Linked DNA regions of Homo sapiens. The protein of the gene in region 1 purifies or fractionates together with the protein of each later gene. This does not show direct contact. Each region holds a gene or a part of one and is shown in the gene's direction. Other genes may lie near its edges.

Region 1 (3,408 bases):
GTGCATTGATATGGAAAGATCTCTACCATACATTGCTAAGTGAAGAAAAAAGTAGTTGCTGAATGGTTTGCTACCTGTTGGGAAAGAAAGGGCAGAATATTTGTTTGTATTTGCATAAAGTAATTTCGGAAGAATAGGCAAGAAACTTAAAAGTATCTGTGATAAGGGAGAAGGGTGAGATTGGGAAGGCAGGAAATTAAGAAAATGAGAGTAGGAGTGTTTGGGTATTTGGTATAGGAATATATTAACTAAAGTTATTTTTTTAAAAGACAATTTTCATTTTTGGAACACTGTTATTGTTATTAGATTTTGAACATTAATGGTGGTAAACAAACTATGTTTATACTTTTACAATTAGAATCCAGATATTAAGAATAAAGATGTTCTTAGCACACTAATTATTAGCATTGATTGACAATAATTTGGCTTCAGAATCAATGCTGTCAGTGCTTCTCTTGGAAGAAATGCAATGATTGTCTCAAATAGAAATTTTGTCTATAACTGGAGTTACTGGTACTAAAGATAGTCAGGGCCTGGTGTAGTAGGTCAGAATCAGCCAGCTCCAGTGTTCTTCCTCTTGGTGTCCTAAACCTTTAGGATACCTCACCTGATTGATTTCTTATGGTTTGAGAACAACTGCCCTGGACCCTTCACTGCTGATTCTAAAGATTCCCTAGATCCATGGTGAAATTAGTTCCCAGAATGGATACAAAGTGGGAGCTCTGAGGACAGAAGGATGAATATGGGAGTTCTGGGGAGGGTGAGGAGTTTATCAAGTGATCAAGGTGGAAGTCTTCAGAGTTTCAGAGCACACCTGTGCAAAGGCACAGAGTCCTCAAATCACATGGGGAGTGGTGACTACTCTGGTGCACCTGGAATGATGGCATTAATTGAACACCTAGTCTGGTCCCTATCATTACTGTTATGTGGAATATCAAAGAAATGAAAGAAGCACTTCTTATCTTCCTATAATTTCCTTCAGAAGCATGCTCCATTATACAATTAAAGAAAAAGAAGACCTATGCAATGATAAGGTAAATAAACATCAAGTGTTTTAGTGACTTTTACCATTTATCAGGCAGGAGTAGTCTGTGACTTGCAGGGCAGGGCAAAAACAGTAGAGGATCCGATGTCCAAGAGACTTGGGTTCAGACTCGCCCTGCCATTTCCTAGTGGTGTGATGTTGGGCAAATCACTTGATCTCTTTTATTTTTTATTTTTTGAGACAGTATCTTGCTCTGTCGCCCAGGATAGAGTGCAGTGGTGCAGTCATAGCTCACTGCAGCCTTAAATTCCCTGGCTCAAGCAATCCTCCCACCTCAGCCTCCTGAGTAGCTGGAACTACAGGCCCATAGCACTGCACCCAGCTCTCACTTGACCTCTTTGAGTCCTTATCTACTCATATGAAGATGGGAATAAATATGTCATCCTTGGAAAATTTGTGAAGACCAGAGATACATGCAAATTCCCTGGTAACAATCAACAAATGATGTATTTTCTTATTTTACATTTCTTTGGTTTCCAAAGCTTCATTTTAAACATATACTCAATTATCCTATTTTATCCATTCTAAGATGTGTATCTCCCCCTATATTTTAACATCTCTAAAATCTGGATGTGTCTCATAATAGATGCTATCTCCTACTGTCATCTAGGTTGCAGGGATAATCAAGTCGTGTGAGCACCTGGTACGAATGAGAAAGCACTAGCAACAATGAACAAGAAACAATTACCAATAAAATCTGGGTAATTTCATTTGAAATTACCACTACAAATCTTGATTTGGGTTTGTACTCTAACACTACCACAACAGGACAACAATTATCTTCCTCCCCCTCCCACTTTGGAACCCTTGATCATTGAAATAAGTTCATAATCCTCCAATGCAAGTATATTCTCGTGTCACATAATTATTTCTTGTTTGCCTGTGACACAGGGAAGACTTTTGTGGTAGTGGGGAGCCATACGTTGATCTTTAAGTGATGCAAGAATTCTGCTTCAGGAGAGATAGCTTTAAGAATCTTCCAGTCCAGGACTGCAGGAAATTCGCTGCCAACAAAGGTTTTAATATGACTCCCTCTCCTCTGCAACTATGGAGTTAATGACTACCTTCTTCCTGTGGCAGTGGAGGAGGGGGGGCTCCTGCTACTCCCAGCAATGGGGCATTTTGAGATTCAGGTACTTTGAAAGTAGAAAGGGGAGGAGGAGAACCAACATTTCTCAAGCAGCTACAATGAGCCAAACATTTTATGTTATTTCATTTATTCCTCCTCATAGGAAATGTGCTATTCTTAGTTTTGTTTTACAGATGAGACAGCAAAGTCTTAGGCTAAGGAATTTCCCAAGGTTATAAGTTGTAAAAAACACATGGGTTTAGATGAAGTATACCAGATATTCCAAGGGTTCTTTTCCTTTATAACTATAATATAATAATATTTATAAAATAGTATTTGAAACTTCTATAAGTAATCATTTAGTTAATCAATTAGTTAATTATAATTAGTCATCTTAATCAATAGGGTTATTTCTCTTCCTCTAATTTATCATTCTTTTCACATACAGTCCCACCAGGATATTTGCGATATACTCCAGAGTCACTCTGGAGGGACCTGATCTCAGAGCACAGAGGACTAGAGGAGTTAATAAATAAGCAAATGCAACCTTTCTTTCGGGGAATTTTGATCTTCTCTAGAAGTTGGGCTGTGGACCTGAACTTGCAGGAGAAGCCAGGAGTCATCTGTGATGCTCTGCTGATAGCACAGAACAGCACCCCCATTCTCTACACCATTCTCAGGGAGCAAGATGCAGAGGGCCAGGACTACTGCACTCGCACCGCCTTTACTTTGAAGCAGAAGCTAGTGAACATGGGGGGCTACACCGGGAAGGTGTGTGTCAGGGCCAAGGTCCTCTGCCTGAGTCCTGAGAGCAGCGCAGAGGCCTTGGAGGCTGCAGTGTCTCCGATGGATTACCCTGCGTCCTATAGCCTTGCAGGCACCCAGCACATGGAAGCCCTGCTGCAGTCCCTCGTGATTGTCTTACTCGGCTTCAGGTCTCTCTTGAGTGACCAGCTCGGCTGTGAGGTTTTAAATCTGCTCACAGCCCAGCAGTATGAGATATTCTCCAGAAGCCTCCGCAAGAACAGAGAGTTGTTTGTCCACGGCTTACCTGGCTCAGGGAAGACCATCATGGCCATGAAGATCATGGAGAAGATCAGGAATGTGTTTCACTGTGAGGCACACAGAATTCTCTACGTTTGTGAAAACCAGCCTCTGAGGAACTTTATCAGGTAAGCAGTTGGATCTTACGTCTCTAAGTATTATTTAATCTGGGTTTAATTTTTTCTGCTAAGTCACCGTCTTTCTTGAGAATTGAGTGGTAAAATGATCTGTGGTAATGTACTGTGCTCGG
Region 2 (2,242 bases), on another chromosome or scaffold:
TGTCAAATTTGCTTTCAAGAAAGGTAGTGTATTAGTCAGCTTGGGCTGCCATAACAGAATGCCACAGACTGAGTGGCTTAAGCAACAGGAATTTATTTTCTCACCATTATGGAGACTGAAAGTTCAAGATCAAGGTGCCAGCAGGGCTGGTTTCTGGTGTGGCTTCTCCTCCTGGCTTGCAGATGGCCACCTTCTGCACGTGGCATTCTCATATGGCCCATTGTTGGAGTGCGTGCAGAGAAAGGGAGAGCTTTGATGTCTCTTCCACTTCTTACAAGGACACCAGTCCTATTGGATTAGGGCTCCATCCATAGGACCTCATTTAACCTTAATTACCTCCTTAAAGTCCCCATCTTCAAATACAGTCACAAGTCCCCATCTTCAAATACAGTCACATTGAAGGTTAGGGCTTCAGATGAATTTTGCGGAGACATACCTCAGTCCATAGCAGATAGTAGCATTGACATTTCATCATCAGTGAATGAAAGTTCCCGTTTCAGCATCTTATTGTCAATGTCAGATATGTATACCATATATGTGCACATGCACACAAGCATGTACATATTGCTAATTTGATGAAGATGGCATTGTTTTACTTTGCATTTCTTTGGTCATTAGTTGCAGTGAAACTTGATTATAATGTTTGGACTTTTTTTTTTTTGGTGAGTTTTCTATTCCTGTACTTTGACCATTTGTGTGTGTGTGTGTTGGGGTTGTTCTTAATTGCCAGTAAACCTACATTTTCACTTGAGTGTTTAGCTATTCTGGCAGGCATTTTTGCTTATACAGAAAAGGAATCATATTTTAAAATATTATTTATCCTTTGATATTAAACCATTATTTACCTTTAAAATATAGCAAAGTATACAGGGTTAATAATATATGATATTCCGTATTAATGAATCATGTTTAATGTTCACCATACATTCGTAAAAAGTATTTATAGTTTGCATGCATTGATTTGCTGACAGTGAAATATAGGTAGTGGCAAGGTTAATGTAGAAATCTTTTCAGATATTATTTGCTCTGAATTAACAAATACAGCAGTGTTTCCTGTGATGTGGTCCCCAGAACTCTGATCCCACAAGATGTCCGGTGAGAAGAAAGTCTGTTGGTTAAATATTTTTGACAACTGCTGCATCCTGTACGCCCCACCTAGTGGTTCACAGTGCACATAGGGAACTGAAAGGCTCTGAGAAGCCATGTAATAAGTAAATCTGTTTAACTTTTGTAAACTGGGTACTTCCAAAACTTATTTTGACCATAGAACATCCCCTTATTTTTTTTTGTTTATGTGATTTATGTTAACTTTTTATTTTGAAATAAGAAAATTCACAAAAAGTTGTAAAGAAAATGTACAGGGAGGTCTCATGCACCCTTCACCCAGTTTTCCCCAATAGTAACATTTTGCAAAACTATAGTAAAATATCACAACCAGGAAATTGACATTCGTGTAATCTATAGAGCTTGTTCAGATTTCATCAGTTATACATGCGCTCGTGTGTGTGTGTGTGTGTGTGTGTGCAGTTCAATGCAGTTTTGTCATGTGTAGAGTTGTGTAACCTCCACCACCATAAGACTCCATTGTGCTATCTCTTTACAGTCACACCTACCCTCTCTCCTCTCCCTAGCTCCCGGCAACCATTGATCTGTTCTCTCTTTCTATAATTTTGTCATTTAAGGATGTTATATAAATGGAATAATATGGTATGTAACCTTTCGAAATTAGCTTTTTTTTTTTACTTAGCATAATTCCCTTGAGGTTCATTCAGATTGTTAACTGTATTAATAGTTCTTTCCTTTTTATTGCTGAGTAATATTATATGATATGGATGTATCATGGTTTGTTTAACCAGTCATCCATAAATGACATTTACCCCCACTCCTAATTCTGGTGGAATCTATTAATACCCTGTGTGAATATTGTCCTGAAAAATAGCAGTTTTGGAAATTCTATACCACAGAAATCATACAGTTAAATAGTTGTCAGCGTTTTAAAGATAATGATTGGGTTGCAGAAATTAAAAATCTTTATTACTTCATTTAGGAATTCCAGAGACGCTGTAACACTCTGATTTCATTGATTGAGAAAGAAAATATGGAAATTGAGGAAAGAGAGAGAGCAGAAAAGAAGAAACGGGCAACTAAAACTCCAATGGTAAAATTTTCAGCATTTTCCTAACTTTTAGGTAGATCCCATTTTTTTACATAATTAAAATGCCTATATTATGTTTAATGCCAT
Region 3 (4,203 bases), on another chromosome or scaffold:
TCAAGCGATTCTTCTGCCTCAGGCTCCTGAGTAGCTGGGACTACAGGCATGCGCCACCACGCCTGGCTAATTTCTGTATTTTTAGTAGAGACGGGGTTTCACCATATTGGCCAGGCTGGTCTCGAACTCCTGACCTTGAGATCTGCCCGCTTTGGCCTCCCAAAGTGGTGAGATTACAGGCGTGAGCCACCGTGCCAGGCCAATAATTTCTTTATGGCCAGTTTTTTCACAGAAAGGTGGAGAGAGAGTAATATTTTTAGGTTTTATGGCTGACTGTGGAGAAAAGGGATTCCTGTTTCTATGCTCCGTCATGGGCAAGAGGGATTCTTGAGTTTCTATGGCTAGCCTCAGAGAATCAGAGATCAGAGAGGGAGCAGAAGGTCAGAGAGAAACTTGCTTCTGAGGCTGCCTCTGGGGCCTTCATTTTGGGGTTTCGTTTTCAGAGCCTCAACAGGAGCAAGCCATGCACATAGGTGGAGGAGATAGGCCCTCATAGAGGGCACATAATGAGTGGTCAATAAAAGTTTGCTGAGTGAAGGCCGGGCGCGGTGGCTCACGCCTGTAATCCCAGCACTTTGGGAGGCCGAGGCGGGCGGATCACGAGGTCAGGAAATCGAGACCATCCTGGCTAACACGGTGAAACCCCGTCTCTACTAAAAATACAAAAAATTAGCCGGGCGTGGTGGAGGGCGCCTGCAGTCCCAGGTACTCGGGAGGCTGAGGCAGGAGAAGGGCGTGAACCCGGGAGGCGGAGCTTGCAGTGAACCGTTATAGCGCCCAGCCTCCAGCCTGGGCAACAGAGCGAGACTCCGTCTCAAACAACAACAACAACAACAACAACAACAAAAACAGCTTTCTGAGTGAAGTTGTATGTGGACATGAATGGCCCAGGCAAACAGTGAACAGAGGAATGGGACAGTGTTCTTAGTTAGGACTCTGACCCTAACTTCCGGGAAAGTAAACCAACATTCAGGACGTACCGGCCATCGGACCGCAACATTCAGGACGTACCGGCCATCAGCGGGTGCCTGTTTTGCAGGGCTGCTAACCCGGGTCCCCGACACGTTTCTCTGCCCACGGTAGCCAGCCCCGCTGTCCTTCGGCCTGGACGCGGTCCTGTGCTGCCACCTGCCTCCGAGGGGCAGAGAAAGTGGGAGGGCCGGGCCAGAATCCCTCCCGCCAAAACTCCTGCCCGGTGCGGAGAGGCGCCCGGAGCCCAGGGCGCTGTGCGGAGCGGGTGTAACTCCCCAGGCCTGCCCCGCCGCCTGCCTCCACCGTCCCGCGGACGCCTTTCCTCCCTCCCGCGGCGTGGGAGCCTTCGCCGCGCTCCGGAACTCTGCTGCTCCAGCGAAGTTCCCGGCCGGCCGCTGGAGCTGCGGGAAGCGGAAGTGCTCGTTGGGGGTGCACAAGGCGCGTTCGAGCAGCGGCGACCGACGCGGCGAAGGAGCGCGCCATGGAGCATGTGACAGAGGGCTCCTGGGAGTCGCTGCCTGTGCCGCTGCACCCGCAGGTGCTGGGCGCGCTGCGGGAGCTGGGCTTCCCGTACATGACGCCGGTGCAGGTATCGGTTCCCTGGCGTGGGGGAGTGAGGCTGGGAGAGGGGCAGGCACCCGCTGCATCGGACCCACAGGAGGTGATCGGACAGATCTGAGCCCTGGGGCGCTCATCCCTCCAGCTGGGGCTCTTGCCTTGTCTCCAGCTGCCCAGACTGGCGGAATGCGGAGCTGCCCGGCCAGCGAGCCGGCAGAGGGGCCGCGACCCACCCCGCCCTCGGGTGCTGTGGTCTCAAGCCTGGTTCTCATCCTGGCCCTGCTCGCTGTAGCTGTGAGACCTCGGGCAAATGGCTTAACCTCTCCGTGCTTCATTTTCCTTCTCTGTGAAATGACGAAAAAATAACACCCTCCTTATGGGGTTGCTGTGGGGACTAAATAAACCAGTCGGCACACTATGGGAGCTCAGTAAGGGTTACCGTTGTTATGCATCTCTTCAAGAATATTTCTTGAGGACCTGCTATGTGTCAGGAACTCTTCTAGGCTCTGGGGAGTTTGCAGTATTGGCATCTGCTCATAGCCTTACTTTCTAGTGCAAGAGCTAGAGAAAGGATAATTTCAGCTGCTGGTAAGTGTTATGAAAGAACTAAGACGGTTGTGATAGTGTCGCGCGAGGACTGCAGAGGAGGTGAGATAGGGTGTTAAGGAAGGCCTCTCTGAGGAGGTGCATTGAGCTGAGACCTCAGTGATTGAGAAGGAGCTGGCTCTGAGGTGACTAGGGGGAGATTATTCCACTGGAGAGAAATACCAGTGCACATAAATGCCCTGCGGCAGGCTGCAAATAGTTTGAGCAGCAGAAAGGAGGCCTTTGTGGCTGAACATCAAGAGTAGTGTAAGAGATGGATTGTGCAGGGTCTTGTAGGCGCTTGGATTTCATTCTAAATGTAGTGGGAAGCCATCTTATCTGGGAGGATGTTTAGGAAGGGAAGGGCTGTGATTTCTCTGTAGAGAGTGGCCTTTCCAGGCATAAGAGATGAAGCAGGCAGGTCGCTTAGGAGGCCATTGTCAGGTAAGAGATGATGGTGACTTGGAGTAGGGTGGAACCAGTGGATACTGAGAAGTCACATTTGGGATAGCTTTAAGGTTGCTAAGGGACTGGAAGTGGAGGTTAGGAAAGAAAAGACTACAGGACCTGAGGTTTTTATTCTTTTTTTTTTTTTTTTTGAGATGGAGTCTCGCTCTGTTGCCCAGGCTGGAGTGCAGTGGCGCGATCTCGGCTCACTGCAACCTCCGCCTCCTGGGTTCAAGCAATTCTCTGCCTGAACCTCCCAAGTAGCTGAGATCACAGGTGCCTGCCACCATGCCCGGCTAATTTTTTGTATTTTTAGTAGATACGGGGTTTCACCATCTCGGCCAGGTTGGTCTTGAACTCCTGACCTCCTGATCCACCCGCCTTGGCCTCCCAAAGTGCTGGGATTACAGGCTGAGCTACCGCACCCGGCTGATTTTTATTAGTAGCTGAGTGAATGGTGTTACCATTTCCCAAGAATGACTGGCGTGCGTATCAGGTTTCAGAGGGAAAGTCAAGAGTTCTTTTTTTTGTTTTTTGTTTGTTTGTTTGTTTTTAACTTTTTTGAGACGGAATCTTTCTCTGTTGCCCAGGTTGGAGTGCAATGACACGATCTCGGCTCACTGCAACTTCTGCCTCCCGGGTTCAAGCTATTCTCCCATCTCAGCCTTCCAAGTAGCTGGGGTTACAGGCATACACCACCACGCCTGGCTAATTTTTGTGTTTTTAGTAGAGACGGGATTTCGCCATGTTGGCCAGACTGGTCTTGAACTCCTGACCTCAGGTACGCCCGCCTTGGCCTCCCAAAGTGCTGGGATTACAGGAGTGAGCCACTGCGCCTGACCACAAGAGTCCTGTTTTTAAACACTGAGCTGGGTACAGTGGCACCCGCCTGTAGTACCATTTGTTTGGAAGGCTGAGGTGGGAGGATCCCTTGAGCCCAGGAGTTCAAGACCAGCCTGAGCAACATAGTGAGACCCGCATCTTCGAAATTAAAATAAATAATGGCCGGGCACGGTGGCTCACGCCTGTAATCCTAGCACTTTTGGAGACCAAGGTGGGAGGATCACTTGAGATCAGGAGTTCAAGACCAGCCTGGGCAACATAGGGAGGCCCTGTCATCACAAAAATTTTTTTTAAATAAATGAAGTCTTGAGTTTGAGATGCCCATAAGATTCCCGGGAATGTGGAGAATGTATTTCCAGCAGGCAGGGCTGGAGATGAAAACTGGGAGTGCTATGTGCCCTGCCTAGGGAATGTAGTGCGAGCAAGACCCAATCTCTGGCCTCAGAGCTCATTGTCTAGACCTGTCATCCACTACACAGTCATCAGACATGGCTATCAAGTGCTTGAAATACACTTTGTCCAAATCAAAGTGTACTCTGAGTATCAAATAACACACTAGATTTTGAAGACCTAGTATGAAAAAAGAATGGAAAATGCTGATTTTTAAATATTGACTAAATGTGAAGGGACAATATTTTTGATATATTGGGTTAAATAAAATATTAAAATTTATTTCACCCATTTCTTTTTACTTTTCTTACTATGGCTATTAGAAAATTTAAAATTGTTTATGTGGTTCACATTTTATTTCTATTGGACAGCAATGGCCTGAAGCAGGGTCCTCACTGTTGGCACTAT
Region 4 (2,802 bases), on another chromosome or scaffold:
GAGCTGATTCTCTGTCCGCTCTTGGCTGCAGGTGCCACATCATCTCACAGTTCAACCAAGGCTTCTACGACTGTGTCATAGCAACTGATGCTGAAGTCCTGGGGGCCCCAGTCAAGGGCAAGCGTCGGGGCCGAGGGCCCAAAGGGGACAAGTGAGTCCATGCCTCTTTTTCCATCCCTCCCCAGAAATGCCTGTGTTTTTAGCTTTTTGGAAGACTAAAACCAGAGTGCACAGAGCAGGGAGCCAAACCTTCCAGGCCTGGCTGGTAGTGTAGCCCAGAGAGCCCCACAGGTTCTTGCTCAGCTGCCTGGATATAGAGAAGGGAGTGGATGGTGCACACTGCACATGCACCACGAAGGGCAAAACTGCCGGGGTTGTTGGCATGCAGAGCCCTGCAGGGGAGATGGCCCATCCTGCATTGGTGGTATGGCTGTGACTTGCAGGGAGCATATTTCTGAAGGGAAAAGGAACCCCCCAACTCTCCAGTCTCTGTCCAGCTGAAGGCTTGACTAGCTCAGAGTTGGTTTTCAGATCACCATGTAGGGCAATGAGTTCTGCTGTTGTCCCAGAACAGAGGTCAGGCCGAGATTTGGGTACATGTCAAAGCTCCAGGCTGCCCCAGGAAACCCTGACTCCTGGAACGGTTCCATTGTTGGAGAGTCCTCTGTATGTCAGGGTCTTATGATCTACAGGCATTTAGAGGAAGTTTTGCTGATTCAGCGTGTGAATACGTGCCCAGAGGAGAGGAAGGGTCCGGCTGACATTGAGTTATCTCTGCAGGGCCTCTGATCCGGAAGCAGGTGTGGCCCGGGGCATAGACTTCCACCATGTGTCTGCTGTGCTCAACTTTGATCTTCCCCCAACCCCTGAGGCCTACATCCATCGAGCTGGCAGGTAGTAGTGTGACGGCCCAGGCATCTGCATGGTAGGCACACTGAGGGACTTGGGGTGTGCTGGACAGAGCCTGCGGGTTGGAGATGCAAGCTGCACTGTCTTCCCTTGCAGGACAGCACGCGCTAACAACCCAGGCATAGTCTTAACCTTTGTGCTTCCCACGGAGCAGTTCCACTTAGGCAAGATTGAGGAGCTTCTCAGTGGAGGTAAGAGCCTGGCTCTTGTGGTCCTGGGCCAGGGTCAGGCTTCTTCCACAATGCTTTAAAACTCCATGATAATGATGACAGAGGTCACAACATAGTGTGACAGGCCACTTCCACCATCCATCCTTGTTCTGCCCTGAGTGGCAGGCACTGTCCCCCTTGAGAGATAAACAAATTGAGGTAATTTGTCCAAAGTTGTGTTTACTGTCTGCCTCATGAGCGTTGAGTGACCTGACAGGCTGCTGTGACAGCTCAGGACAGCACCTGACCCCAGGGTGCTGGGTGGTCCTGGACTGCTCTCTGTGGCCGTCGTCATGGGGGTACCTTGACTCCCAAGGAATACCATGGGGTACTCCTTGGGAGAGGAGAAGAGAGTGGGTGACGGGTTCTTGGGCTTGGGGCCACACAGGCCACCCCCATCCACACACGGGGACAGATGGGTCATCACTGTAAGAGGCCCAGGTGCAGCTAACCTGCATGTTCGGCATCCCAGGAAGGCGGTGGGTCCCCTGCTGCTTTCCCCCAAGGGGGAGGTGCAGGAGGCCTCCAATGAAGACCCTATCCTAAGGCCTCAGCCTGTGGGACCCTCGCTGCTTTCTTCTCCACAGAGAACAGGGGCCCCATTCTGCTCCCCTACCAGTTCCGGATGGAGGAGATCGAGGGCTTCCGCTATCGCTGCAGGGTGAGCTGCTGTGGTGGGGAGGGGAATGAGAGGGGAGGGGCTGTGGCCCAGGGATTGCACCGTCTTGCTGAGCATCCAGGTGTGAAGGGAGGATTTGGGGCAGCCTCACTGTCTTGACCTTCAGTGTCCACCCCCAGGATGCCATGCGCTCAGTGACTAAGCAGGCCATTCGGGAGGCAAGATTGAAGGAGATCAAGGAAGAGCTTCTGCATTCTGAGAAGCTTAAGGTGAGTGGATGGGAGGTGAGAAGGGGATAGATCTTAGACGGCTGCCCTTTTTGGAGACTGGCTGAGCTCCGAGTGGTGAGAAGCAGAGAACTGGGCAGTTTTCTGGCCTTTGGCACGGAAGGGGAGGAAATGGACCCAGAATCATGGAAGGAAGCCAGTCTGTTCTGCTTGGTGGTAAATTGGCACAACCTTATGGTGGACACTGTCCAGCAGAATTACGAGCTCATGTGTCCTTTCATCCGAAATTCCACTTCTGGAACTTAATCCTGGTCACGCTTGTGAATGTGCACAGTCAAGCATGTGCCTGCATTCATCCATCCATGGCATTATCATGGAACCAAAAGATGGAAACAGCCTGGGGCCACCATAGGGGGCTTGCTAGGTAAACTCAGGTGCATTCAGAGCCGAAGGTTACATGGGAAGGAATGAGGTTGGTTGCGTGTCCATATGGAACAGTCTGTAAGATGATGCCCAGCAAAAAGGGGTACAGGGTACTGCCATGTGTGTCATGGAGAAGGGAAAATGGAAACATCCACTCCCGGGAGGTTCTGAGAAATGCACAGAAGCAGCTGCCTCATGCCTTTTGAAACACATGAGTGTGTTATCCTTTGAAAAGCTAGGTCTGTGAAGTCACAGAAGAAAGATGCTCACTCTGTGGCTCTCCCTCTTCCCCCGGCAGACATACTTTGAAGACAACCCTAGGGACCTCCAGCTGCTGCGGCATGACCTACCTTTGCACCCCGCAGTGGTGAAGCCCCACCTGGGCCATGTTCCTGACTACCTGGGTGAGTGTGGC
Region 5 (3,500 bases), on another chromosome or scaffold:
CACTGAGGTTTGCCAGGACAATTATGTATCTTGCTAAAGGTGATCTTCTTAAGATGTACCTGTCTTGTTCAGATACAGACTGAATGTGTGGGAAACTGAAGTGATCATAGTGTTCTAAAATATAGGTTTGTAGTTACCCTGTAGTGTAAGTGTAGCTTTTTATTTACCCTGAAGTATGTAACTTCACAACGTGAGAAAGATTCAGTTACCTACAGGCTTCCTGGCTGGCCTTCCAAGCCATCCGATGATTTCCATGGACTTAAACTAGAAGAAACTTGACTTTGCTCTCATGTGCATTAGCTTATGTCATAGAAGGTGCTTGGTAATATTGTCAAATCATACCTGGGCTGTTCGTCAGTGATCAGAAGTTAATCTGGGTCCCCAGCCTCTGACAGTGGTATTTCAAAACAAACTCGATGCAACTAATCCTAGTTTTTAGTGTAAAAGCACTTTTCTAACTCTAAATTTATTTCTTTGTATAAGGTGATGTCTTGAACTAAACCCAAAGTTTGTTCGTTGATCCTTGGACATTAAGTGGATATGGAGACTTCCGCCCCAGGGTATAAATTTTTAATCAGGATCTTTGTCGTTCTATAAACTGCAGGTATGAAAATGAAAGTCTTCAGAATGGAAGGAAGTCAACTGAATTTCCAAGAAAAATACGTGAACAGGTGATAGAAAATATCCAAGTTTGGGCTGATTCGTTTCGATGATATGAAATCATTTATGTATGCTTTAATGATTTCTTACTTGAAATCAGTTACAAAGAGGGTGGTTACTGTTATAGTAGGAAAATGTAACTAAAGTATAAAAACGAGTTGAACTTAGACGTATTAAAATAATCTAAAATGATATTTCCTCTTTATTGTTCAAAATCAGAGCACTAAGTTGGTCTTACACTTTTAGCCAAAAAGTCTATTAGAGCATGTTGCGAGCTTTTTGCAAACCCATGATTAGGATAACCCCAACACGTAGAGCTAACATTTGGGAATTGCATTATCTGGTGGCTCATTTTGTCGCCCAGTCATTGTACTCATCCGTCTTTATGTGTCTGAAATAATCACATTATGAAAATCATGAGTGCCAAAGATGCTTCTCTATTTTGATAGATAGACGACCCATGAAACAGGAAAAGGGATCCTGTGCTTTGTCTTGTGAGAGAATCCTATAGTTTGAGTGTATCAGTGTGGAACAGGTATTCCAATTGTACAGCTTATGAAAACATAATTGTCGACACGTGCTTCGCAATTTAGATAGTTTGAGTATATCAGTGTGGAAGAGGTATTTTAGTTGTACAGCTTATTAAAACACAGTTGTCGGCATGTGCTTGGAAATTTAGTGGGATTTAGGCTTAGGATGAGCCCTGAGAATTCATATTTTTCCTACATTTTAGAGTGCTCCTAAAGCTAGTTTCAGATGAGCTCCTTGGAATATCTTGGCTTAGGAGAGTTATCTTAGGTGCACCTGAAATTAGCAGTAGGTACTCTTGAATTTCAACATTTCTGCCTTTTTTTTTTTTTTTTTTTCTGAGACGGAGTCTCACTCCGTCACCCAGGCTGGAGTGCAGTGGTGCGATCTTGGCTCACTGCAACCTCCGCCTCCTGGGTTCAAGCAATTCTCCTGCCTCAGCCTCCCGAGTAGCTGGGACTACAGGTGCACACCACCATGCCTGGCTAATTTTTGTATTTTTAGTAGAGACAGGGTTTCACCATATTGACCAGGCTGGTCTTGAACTCCTAACCTCGTGATCCACCCACCTGGGCCTCCCAAAGTGCTGGGATTACAGGCTTGAGCCACCATGCCCAGTCCATTTCTGCCATTTAAGTACTGCCTTCTTCCCTAGAGGAGCAGCCTTAATGTTGAATCTGATGGTCATCAGTTCCCGTGCTGGAAGCCAGTTTCTGAGGCATCCCACACTGTAGCCACCAGGCAACTTGCTAGTCTATGGGAGTAAATAAACCAAAAAGCCAGTTGAACTGTGGGTTAGATATGTGCCACTCAGCAGTCTAGGAACTGTTTGTTCTGTTACTGGTCTGTGATATAGTGAGTACTGAAATGGAGTATGTAGTAAATATGACAGCAATTCGACAGCAATTTTGTGGCTATTGAATGTAATCGTACAACAAAAGTGAGATTATATACTTTACATATTCATAATTTTATTAGTGGTTCATTTATATTGTTTAGTCATAAGATTCTTGTTCCACTTCAGATTGGAAATAAAAAACCATCCCTCACATAGATAGTTTTAGAAGCAAGGTGTTACGTATCAAGAAACCTAAAATTGATTAAGGAAGTTAGATTCTTTGCCTTTGTTAATATTTTTTAGATATTTTCTTAATAATCCAGATGATAAGCTTTTCTTCCTTTGGGGCATCAGACTTTTATAAAAGTTATATATATATGTTATTCTTTAGTTCTTCCACCCTTCCGGAAATAATTCCATATGAAGGAAAGTTAGGGCGCTGTCTCTGGGGAGCCAGGTGGGGGCGCTGCGCCTGCTCCCAGGCTGTGAGGTTGCAGAATCTGTGAATATACCATGTGTGCCTGTACCATGAATTTACCTAGGGTGAATCTAGGCTCTCAGATCCACCCTAAGTATCCACCAGCCAAGAGGGCGCACATGCCAAGTGGAGCCTCAGTTCATCGACAGGTCCTATGGCCCATTTATGAGAAAACTGATGACGCAGTCAGTAGTTCTGAGCTCGTGGGGGGTTACAGATCTTCAGTATAGGTGATGTTTAATATTGACTTTGGTTCTTCCGCAATAGGATGTTGGGAAATATCTTTAAAGGAAGTTATAAAAACACACCGAGGTTTGATTTTAGTAATTTTAAGCCTCGAATTTGTTTCCTATTAATCACTCACTATTTTTTAATGAGTCAGCTAATAAGTACTTTTATCCTGACCACTAGCTCCCAACTGACTTGAGCTCATTTCTCAAACAGTCTTTAAAAGTCATATACGAGTGGTTTGGTAAAGAAAACAATTTTTTATTGTTTTTATTTTTATTTTTTGAGACAGAGTCTCGCTTTATTGCCCAGGCTAGAGTGCAGTGGTGCAATCTCTGCTCACTGCAACCTCTGCCTCCCGGGTTCCAGCAATTCTCCTGCCTCGGCCACCTGAGTAGCTGGGACTACAGGCACCTGCCACCACATCCAGCTAATGTTTGTATTTGCAGTAGAGATGAGGTTACATCATGTTGGCCAGGCTGTTCTCAAACTCCTGACCTCAAGTGATCCGCCCACCTTGGCCTCCCAAAGTGCTGGGATTACAGGCATGAGCCATCATGCCCAGCCAGAAAACAATAAATAATATTTTCACTGTTGTGACTGTCATCATTTAGAAAGACCTGCAAATAACTGTTCTTATTTTCCCAACTTACAGGAGCCAGCACGTCGTGTCTCAAGATCTAGCTTCTCTTCTGACCCTGGTGAGTAGTGGTTGGGTTTTGTTCCAGAATCCTGAAAGATCAGGTCTTTGCGAAGCATATTGGCAAA
Region 6 (3,500 bases), on another chromosome or scaffold:
TCCAGCTGTGACATGGGCACCTGTGGTCTATTTCTCCTGTGCACATCCAACTGCCCCATCCCTATTCCACGTTGGTGGAGTTGGGTGGAGGCTACCTAGGAGAGCAGTCTCTGGTCACATCATTCATCCAGTAAGTGTTTATTGAGCACCATCTGTATATACCAGGCTGTGCGTTAGGTGCTGGGGATAGGGGAAAAACAGAGTTTCAGTCTCCTGGAATTTATAATTTGACATGAACTGTATTAAGTCACTGTCATGACCCATGCCCATAACTTGACCACAAGTGATTGAGAACACTTGATTAACCCTGGATGGGCTACTGACCTATCTATCACACAGCCCTGGGCCAGTTCATCTCTAGACAGCTCAGCAAATGGGGAAAATAACAGAACCCACTCCCAAGCTCAGGTGATCCTCCCACCTCAGCCTCCTGAGTAGCTGGGGCTACAGGTGCACACTACCATGCCCAGCTAATTTTTCTATTTTTTTTTTGTAGAGACAGGGTTTTGCCATGTTGCCCAGGCTGGTCTTGAACTCCTGGGTTCAAGCAATCTGCTCACTTCGGCCTCCCAAAGTGCTGGGATTACAGGCGTGAGCCACTGTGCCCAGGCAACTTTAATAATATTTAATGCACTAATTGGTGTGTGTACAGTGATTGGTTCATTTTAATAACTGAAAACCCAGCCTGCCCCCCGCTCCCACCCCGGAGGACCCAGTGTCACATAAGAGTCCCCCACCCCGCTGTCGCCAGCAGAGTTCCCTCAGGACAACAGTAACAGGAAGTGAGGAAGGCTGCCACTCTCGGGGCTGTAGAAACCCTGCTCTGCCTCACCTCCTGTCTTATCCACAGTGTGTGGTCCAGCAATGCTCTTCCTTCGGAGCCTCCGGTCCCTCTTTCTCCTATGAATCAAATGAAAGACAGAAAGGGCAGGGGAATTAGGAATGCAGGCTGAGCAGGCATACCTACTTTCTGGACAGTTAGTCAGTCTTGTGCTCCTCCCATGCCCCATCCAGTCTCAGTCTCAACAGCAGGGAGGGCCTTTGTCACGTGAATATCTGCTGTCACTCTTAGGACTCAGTAGCAGGGCTTCCAAGGCCTTTGGTGACCTGGCCCCTGCCACTTCACCTTCCCCAGCCTGGCATGCTCCGAGTCCCCAGCACGGCCCAGCCTTCCCAGGATGTCCAGGCTCTTGCTTGCTCTTCTACCTGCTCCCCTGGCTAACTCTTTTTTTAAAATTCATTTTTACTTATTTTGTTTTAGAGATGGGGGTCTCACTATATTGCCCAGGCTAGTCTTGAACTGTTGGGTTCAAGTGATACTCCCACCTCCGCCTCCCAAAGTGCTGGGATAACAGGCATGAGCCACCGTGCCTGGCACCTGGCTGACTCTTAATCATCCATCCTTCTGGTTACAATTTATTGTCACTTCCCTAAACACCCCCTTTCTTGGCCAAAGTCAGGGTTAGCTGGCCTTTGTGCTCCTGCAGCCTCTGTCCCTCCCCTACCATAGCACTGTCTCATTGTATTGAGATGGGCTTATCCCCTGGTCAGCTCTGAGGGGAGGGCCAGGCCTACCCTGCAGCCAGGCCCCCAGCCTGGCACAGAGCCCACAGTCTGGTTGCGTCTCATGTGGATTCTAATTTGAATGTAAAGGAGAACCATACAAAAGCATCTGTGGTGGTTCACGCCTGTAATCCCAACAGTTTGGGAGGCCAAGGTGGGAGGATCTCTTGAGACGAGGAGTTTGAGACCAGTCTCTATCATAAAATTTAAAACATTAGCCAGGCCTGGTGGTGTGTGCCTATGGTCCCAGCTACTTGGGATGTTTAGGCAGGAAGATCGCTTGAGCCCTGGAGGTCGAGGCTACAGTGAGCCATGTTTACACTATTGCACTCCGGCCTGAGTGACAGAGCCAGTCTGTCACCTGTCTCTAAAAAAATAAAAAATAAAAAAAAAATATGAGCCAAATTTGGCATAATGTAGATTTCCATCATTAAAACAAAACTCACAGAAAACAGCAAGATTTCAAAGCCAGCATGCAGTGATTAAGATATCCCTTTGGAGTCGGGTCCTTGCTTTGCCTCCGCAGGCTGCGTGACCTGGTGCTTAACGCAGTTACCACATGGTGGCGCCACGTCAGCTGAGAGCAGAAATAGAAAGGTCCCCGTTCTTCACTAGTGCCTGGCGAGGGGTCTGTTTACATGCATCAGAACACCTGTCCTGGGTTTTGAGGACTCTTGTATTGCTATTTTATAACTCACTATAATACTTTAAAAATATTTAATTTAAAAATCATTTAATAATTAATTTAAATATAATAATAAATAATTTAAAAATCATTTTTAAATAATAATTTTAAAACCCTCCAACATGTCATCCACCCATTCATTAGGAGGTAACAGCACCAGGGCTGAAAAATGTGCATTAAAGTCGATAACTTTGGTGTGCAACGTCAGCGTGATAGGCAACCAAGTAGCCACCTCTCTGAGGCTGAGCCGTCAATTTTGGGGTGACCCCTCTTTGGGATTTGAGAGATCGGGCTGAGAAGACAGAAAGCAATGACAATATGCTGCAGTGGTCGTGGATTTTCTGTGCGGAGGGAACATCTCCTCCTACTGTATATTTATTCTTGTGGGGAATGAGTCCTGCCCTACGGGGAGTTTTGCATTAATGAGGCTCTCTAAGAACCGAGGCTCTCCAAGAACCAAGCCATGCATACAGTGCAGAACACCCTAGGCAAGGCCTTCACATCAGATTTGTGGGCTGAGGCTGACACGTGAACGGAGCTGCCTTAGCGCCCCGCCTGACCCCCTCTTTCCTTTCCCCCACACCCCCTGCTCTGATCTGCTGTCTCTTCTCAGCCTCTCTGCTCACCCTGTCTCTTCTGGCCATTCTTAACGGCATCCCCCACTTAGGCATCCCTCCGCCCCCACAGGCTGCCAGGCAGACCCAGCACCATCACATTCACGCCTCAGGCCTCCTTGCTGTGCTGTTTCACGTCATTCCCAGACACCTGGGGCAGATTCCGGAGTCTCTACCAAGAAAACAACCAGAAGCAATGAACCACAAAATCTGGAGAAAAACATGGCTGTCACAGATCAAAGAGGCCCCCCTTTGGAGGCTGGGGGCCTCCGTGAGAAGCAGTGGGATAGTTGAGAGGCAAAAAACATGGGGCAGAATTCCGCGCCCCTCATATCAGCTGGGAGAATGCCAATGACCAGTGGTTTCTGAGCTTTAGCTGTGTGGGGTAAGAGGTCAATAGATTTTGGTGTTACTATTATGGGGTTGCCAGAGCCACCTCTGTTCCTGCCAGATGGGCCCCCAGCTCCTCTGGGTGAACTGTGACTTCCCTCAGTCACATAGATCCAGCCATGCAAACCTGCCTGCGTTGCGGCCACAGCACTTGCTGTCTCTCTCACCAGGACCGTTCTCCCTGATGGCATCAGGGCCTGGATCACAGTCACATTCTCCAGGAGTGTTTTTGCAGGGGACCCTCTGGA
Region 7 (3,500 bases), about 32 Mb from region 1:
TTATTTTTTTGAGACGGAGTTTCGCTTTTGTCACCTAGGCTGGAGTGCAATGAATGGCACGATCTCGGCTCACTGCAACCTCCGCCTCCTGGGTTCAAGCAATTCTCCTGCCTCAGCCTCCTGAGTAGCTGGGATTACAGGCGCCCGCCACCATGCCCAGCTACTTTTTGTATTTTTAGTAGAGCCAGGGCTTTACCATGTTGGCCAGGCTGGCCTCAAACCCCTGACCTCAGGTGATCCACTCGCTTCGGCCTCCCAAAGTGTCAGGATTACAGGCGTGAGCCACCGCACCCGACCTAAAATTATTTTTAAATTAATTTTCTTCCTTTTTTTTTTTTTTTTTTTTTGAGAGACAGAGTCTTGGCAGTGTCGCCCAGGCTGGAGTGCAGTGGTGCAATCTCAGCTCACTGCAACCTCTGCCTCCCAGGTTCAAGCGATTCTCCTTACCTTAGCCTCCCAAGTAGCTGGAATTATAGGTGCCTGCCACCATGCCTGGCTAATTTTTTTGTATTTTTAGTAAAGACGGGGTTTCATTATGTTGGCCAGGCTGGTCTCAAACTCCTGACCTCATGATCCACCTGCCTTGGCCTCCCAAAGTGCTGGAATTACAGGTGTGAGCCACCATGCCTGGCCATGAATTTTCAGTACTTGTCTTTTGTGAGATATCTTCATCCGCAAAAAGCTTCAGGTCTTTTTTTTTTTTTTTTTGAGATGGAGTCTTGCTTTTGTTGCCCAGGCTGGAGTGCAATGGGGCGATCTCAGCTCACTGTAACCTCTGCCTCTTGGGTTCAAGTGATTCTCCTGCCTCAGCCTCCCAAGTAGCTGGGACTATAGGTGTGCGCTACCACGCCTGACTAATTTTGTATTTTTACTGGAGATGGGGGTTCACCATGTTGGTCAGGCTGGTCTCGAACTCCTGACCTCAAGTGATCCACCCGCCTTGGCCTCCCAAAGAGCTGGGATTACAGGTGTGAGCCACTGTGCCGGGCTAGCTTCAGCTCTTAATAAAATGACTTTCCATCCTCCCTTTTGCACTCTGGCTAAGACTTAAAAGAATATCTCCAGCTATTTTTTTACTCATCTGGTTTAAGCTGGACTTTTTAGCTTTGTGTTTTTTGTAGTTAAAAAAAAAATCTATCTACATTTTGCTTTTAATTGTTCTCAGGTCTCCTGGCCCCTGGTTCTTTGATTGTCTGAGTCCACACTGCCTTTTAACTGATACAGTCCACTGCTAAGTCAGCAAGTTAGCCTTGAGAATCCCAGAGACTTTAATGTGGCAATATTGTATATTTTTAGGGTTTACAGTGAAACTTGGGCTGACTACTTGCTGATTGGTTAAAGTAATAAATAAGTAAATTGTTAAAGTAATAAATGTTAAACTAATAAATAAATCAAAAAAATTGTTTTTTTTCGAGACAGAGTCTCACTCTGTCGCCCAGGCTGGAGTACACTGGTGGGATCTCGGCTCACTGCAACCTCTGCCTCCTGGGTTCAAGCGATTCTCTTGCCTCAGCCTCCCTAGTAGCTTGGGACTTTGCCATGTTGGTCAGACTGGTCTCGAATTCCTGACCTCAGGTGATCCACCCGCCTTGGCCTCCCAAAGTGCTGGGATTACAGGCGTGAACCACTACGCCCGGCCAGGTTCTTTGTTTCTTGAGTGTTCGCTTGTTTTGCATGATTTGTCTCCCACGGGTTCATAGGGATGATCAGAGGACCAATTGAGGCAGTTGGCTGGTCCTTGAAAAACTGGGGTTTGGGTTAGTATAGGTCATCATGACCAAGGAGAGTATGAAAACACTCAGTCAAGGCCAAAGTGAGCAGTAGAAGGGAGGGGTGGTCCTTTTGAGACTTTATCAAGCTTGTGTCCTGGAACCCCTTCATTTCCTTGGTAGGGTAGAACTTTATTATTTAATGTTGAATAAATTGATAATAAATAAATTGTTAAATGTTGGGTTATTATCCTAAGACAATTGATTTTCTTTTTGGCATTTCATTTCAAAATATACATTTTAAAATTCATTTTAAATTATGATACATTATAGTTTGATTTTTAAAAACTTACTATATCATGAAACATTTACATCTTATAGATTTTATAATTTAACTTTATATATTGAAAGGCTGCAAAAATAATTTCATCAAGTCATGCTACAATTTACCTAAGTCTTTTTATGTGAAGTATTTATACTGCTGTCTGGGTGGTTTTCAGTTAACACTTTAATCTACATCATTGTAGATACTGTTGCATTTTTTCTAATGATATCTTAAGGATAAATTTTGGAGTGTGTTATTATGTTAAGGGGTATCAGTGTTTTTATGGCTCCTCACATATATTGTCCTACTGTTTTCAAGGGTGTTATACCAGTTTGTGCTCCTAACAGATATATGGATATACCTGTTTTACCATAAGTAGTAGAGAAAACCATTTTTCTTCAGAAGTTTTTGTGAATTTAATAGTGTAAAATGGCACTTTCATTTCTTTGTTATATAATGTTGAATTTAACTATTTGAGCCTCTTTATGGTGAACTGTTTGTTGATATCAGTTGCTATATTATGCAATTAACTATTGTAGGCTTTGAATGGTAAGGCTGGTATAATATGGTCAGTAAAAATTGTTCACAAGAGTGTGTGGTCGAGGCTGGGTGCAGTGGCTCACGCCTGTAATCCCAGCACTTTGGGAGGCCAAGGCGGGCGGATCAGGAGGTCAGGAGATCGAGACCATCCTGGCTAACACGATGAAACCCCGTCTCTTCTAAAAATACAAAAAATTAGCCGGGCGTGGTGGCAGGTGCCTGTAGTCCCAGCTACTCGGGAGTCTGAGGCAGGAGAATGGTGTGAACCCGGGAGGTGGAGCTTGCAGTGAGCCGAGATAGAGATAGCACCACTGCGTACAGCCTGGGCAAAAGAGGGAGACTCCGTCTCAAAAAAAAAAAAAAAAAAAAAAAAGAGTGTGTGGTCAAAATGGTAAATGATCTTGGGAAGAGTGTTTGAAGGGGAACAGATGGATTATTCCAGGATTCAGTTCAGCAAGTATTTATTGGGCATCTGCTGTGAGCCCCTTTGTATCACTGCTCCTCTGAGTGGTTCTCAAGTTCTTGTGATGGCATGTGCTGGGTTGAAGCAGGACACTGCTTGAGGCTTGACCATTTGTGGGTTCTGGCTTCTGTTGTCTCTCTCTTTTTTTTTTTTTTGTGAGGGAGTCTCGCTCTGTTGCCCAGGCTGGAGTACAGTGACACGATCTCGACTCACTGCAGCCTCCGCCTCCCTGGTTCAAGTGATTTTCCTGCCTCAGCCTCCTGAGTATCTGGGATTACAGGTGCGCACTACCATGCCCTGCTAATTTTTGTATTTTTAGTAGAGACGGGGTTTCACCATGTTGTTCAGGCTGGTCTTGAACTTCTGACCTCGTGATCCACCCGCCTTGGCCTCCCAAAGTGCTGGGATTACAGGTGTGAGCCACCGCGCCCGGCCTTCTGTTGTCTCTTTGTGGCTGCTTGGA

The links.
Region 2: the proteins of SLFN11 (region 1) and SMARCA1 purify together in Homo sapiens (affinity purification with mass spectrometry, with the first as the bait; one study listed by BioGRID). This does not show direct contact.
Region 3: the proteins of SLFN11 (region 1) and DDX55 purify together in Homo sapiens (affinity purification with mass spectrometry, with the first as the bait; one study listed by BioGRID). This does not show direct contact.
Region 4: the proteins of SLFN11 (region 1) and DDX56 purify together in Homo sapiens (affinity purification with mass spectrometry, with the first as the bait; one study listed by BioGRID). This does not show direct contact.
Region 5: the proteins of SLFN11 (region 1) and MKI67 purify together in Homo sapiens (affinity purification with mass spectrometry, with the first as the bait; one study listed by BioGRID). This does not show direct contact.
Region 6: the proteins of SLFN11 (region 1) and CASP9 purify together in Homo sapiens (affinity purification with mass spectrometry, with the first as the bait; one study listed by BioGRID). This does not show direct contact.
Region 7: the proteins of SLFN11 (region 1) and HELZ purify together in Homo sapiens (affinity purification with mass spectrometry, with the first as the bait; one study listed by BioGRID). This does not show direct contact.

What each region holds. Positions count from the first base shown.
Region 1 is NC_000017.11:35,353,214-35,356,621, reverse strand, and holds part of SLFN11 (schlafen family member 11), read left to right. Parts: intron 1-2,562; coding exon 2,563-3,286; intron 3,287-3,408. UniProt on the Homo sapiens protein: Inhibitor of DNA replication that promotes cell death in response to DNA damage. Acts as a guardian of the genome by killing cells with defective replication.
Region 2 is NC_000023.11:129,448,249-129,450,490, reverse strand, and holds part of SMARCA1 (SWI/SNF-related matrix-associated actin-dependent regulator of chromatin subfamily A member 1), read left to right. Parts: intron 1-2,047; coding exon 2,048-2,158; coding exon of another isoform or gene 2,159-2,182; exon of another isoform or gene 2,183-2,189; intron 2,190-2,242.
Region 3 is NC_000012.12:123,600,696-123,604,898, forward strand, and holds the start of DDX55 (ATP-dependent RNA helicase DDX55), read left to right. Parts: upstream 1-1,403; 5' UTR 1,404-1,453; coding exon 1,454-1,561; intron 1,562-3,152; exon of another isoform or gene 3,153-4,203. UniProt on the Homo sapiens protein: Probable ATP-binding RNA helicase. Has ATPase activity and is involved in the maturation of precursor large subunit rRNAs.
Region 4 is NC_000007.14:44,568,107-44,570,908, reverse strand, and holds part of DDX56 (probable ATP-dependent RNA helicase DDX56), read left to right. Parts: intron 1-31; coding exon 32-151; intron 152-780; coding exon 781-894; intron 895-1,005; coding exon 1,006-1,100; intron 1,101-1,705; coding exon 1,706-1,779; intron 1,780-1,916; coding exon 1,917-2,006; intron 2,007-2,685; coding exon 2,686-2,791; intron 2,792-2,802. UniProt on the Homo sapiens protein: Nucleolar RNA helicase that plays a role in various biological processes including innate immunity, ribosome biogenesis or nucleolus organization. Plays an essential role in maintaining nucleolar integrity in planarian stem cells.
Region 5 is NC_000010.11:128,116,424-128,119,923, reverse strand, and holds part of MKI67 (proliferation marker protein Ki-67), read left to right. Parts: intron 1-604; coding exon 605-671; intron 672-3,387; coding exon 3,388-3,433; intron 3,434-3,500. UniProt on the Homo sapiens protein: Protein that associates with the surface of mitotic chromosomes and acts both as a chromosome repellent during early mitosis and chromosome attractant during late mitosis.
Region 6 is NC_000001.11:15,500,216-15,503,715, reverse strand, and holds part of CASP9 (caspase-9 isoform alpha precursor), read left to right. Parts: intron 1-3,500. UniProt on the Homo sapiens protein: Involved in the activation cascade of caspases responsible for apoptosis execution. Binding of caspase-9 to Apaf-1 leads to activation of the protease which then cleaves and activates effector caspases caspase-3 (CASP3) or caspase-7 (CASP7).
Region 7 is NC_000017.11:67,235,197-67,238,696, reverse strand, and holds part of HELZ (probable helicase with zinc finger domain), read left to right. Parts: intron 1-3,500. UniProt on the Homo sapiens protein: May act as a helicase that plays a role in RNA metabolism in multiple tissues and organs within the developing embryo.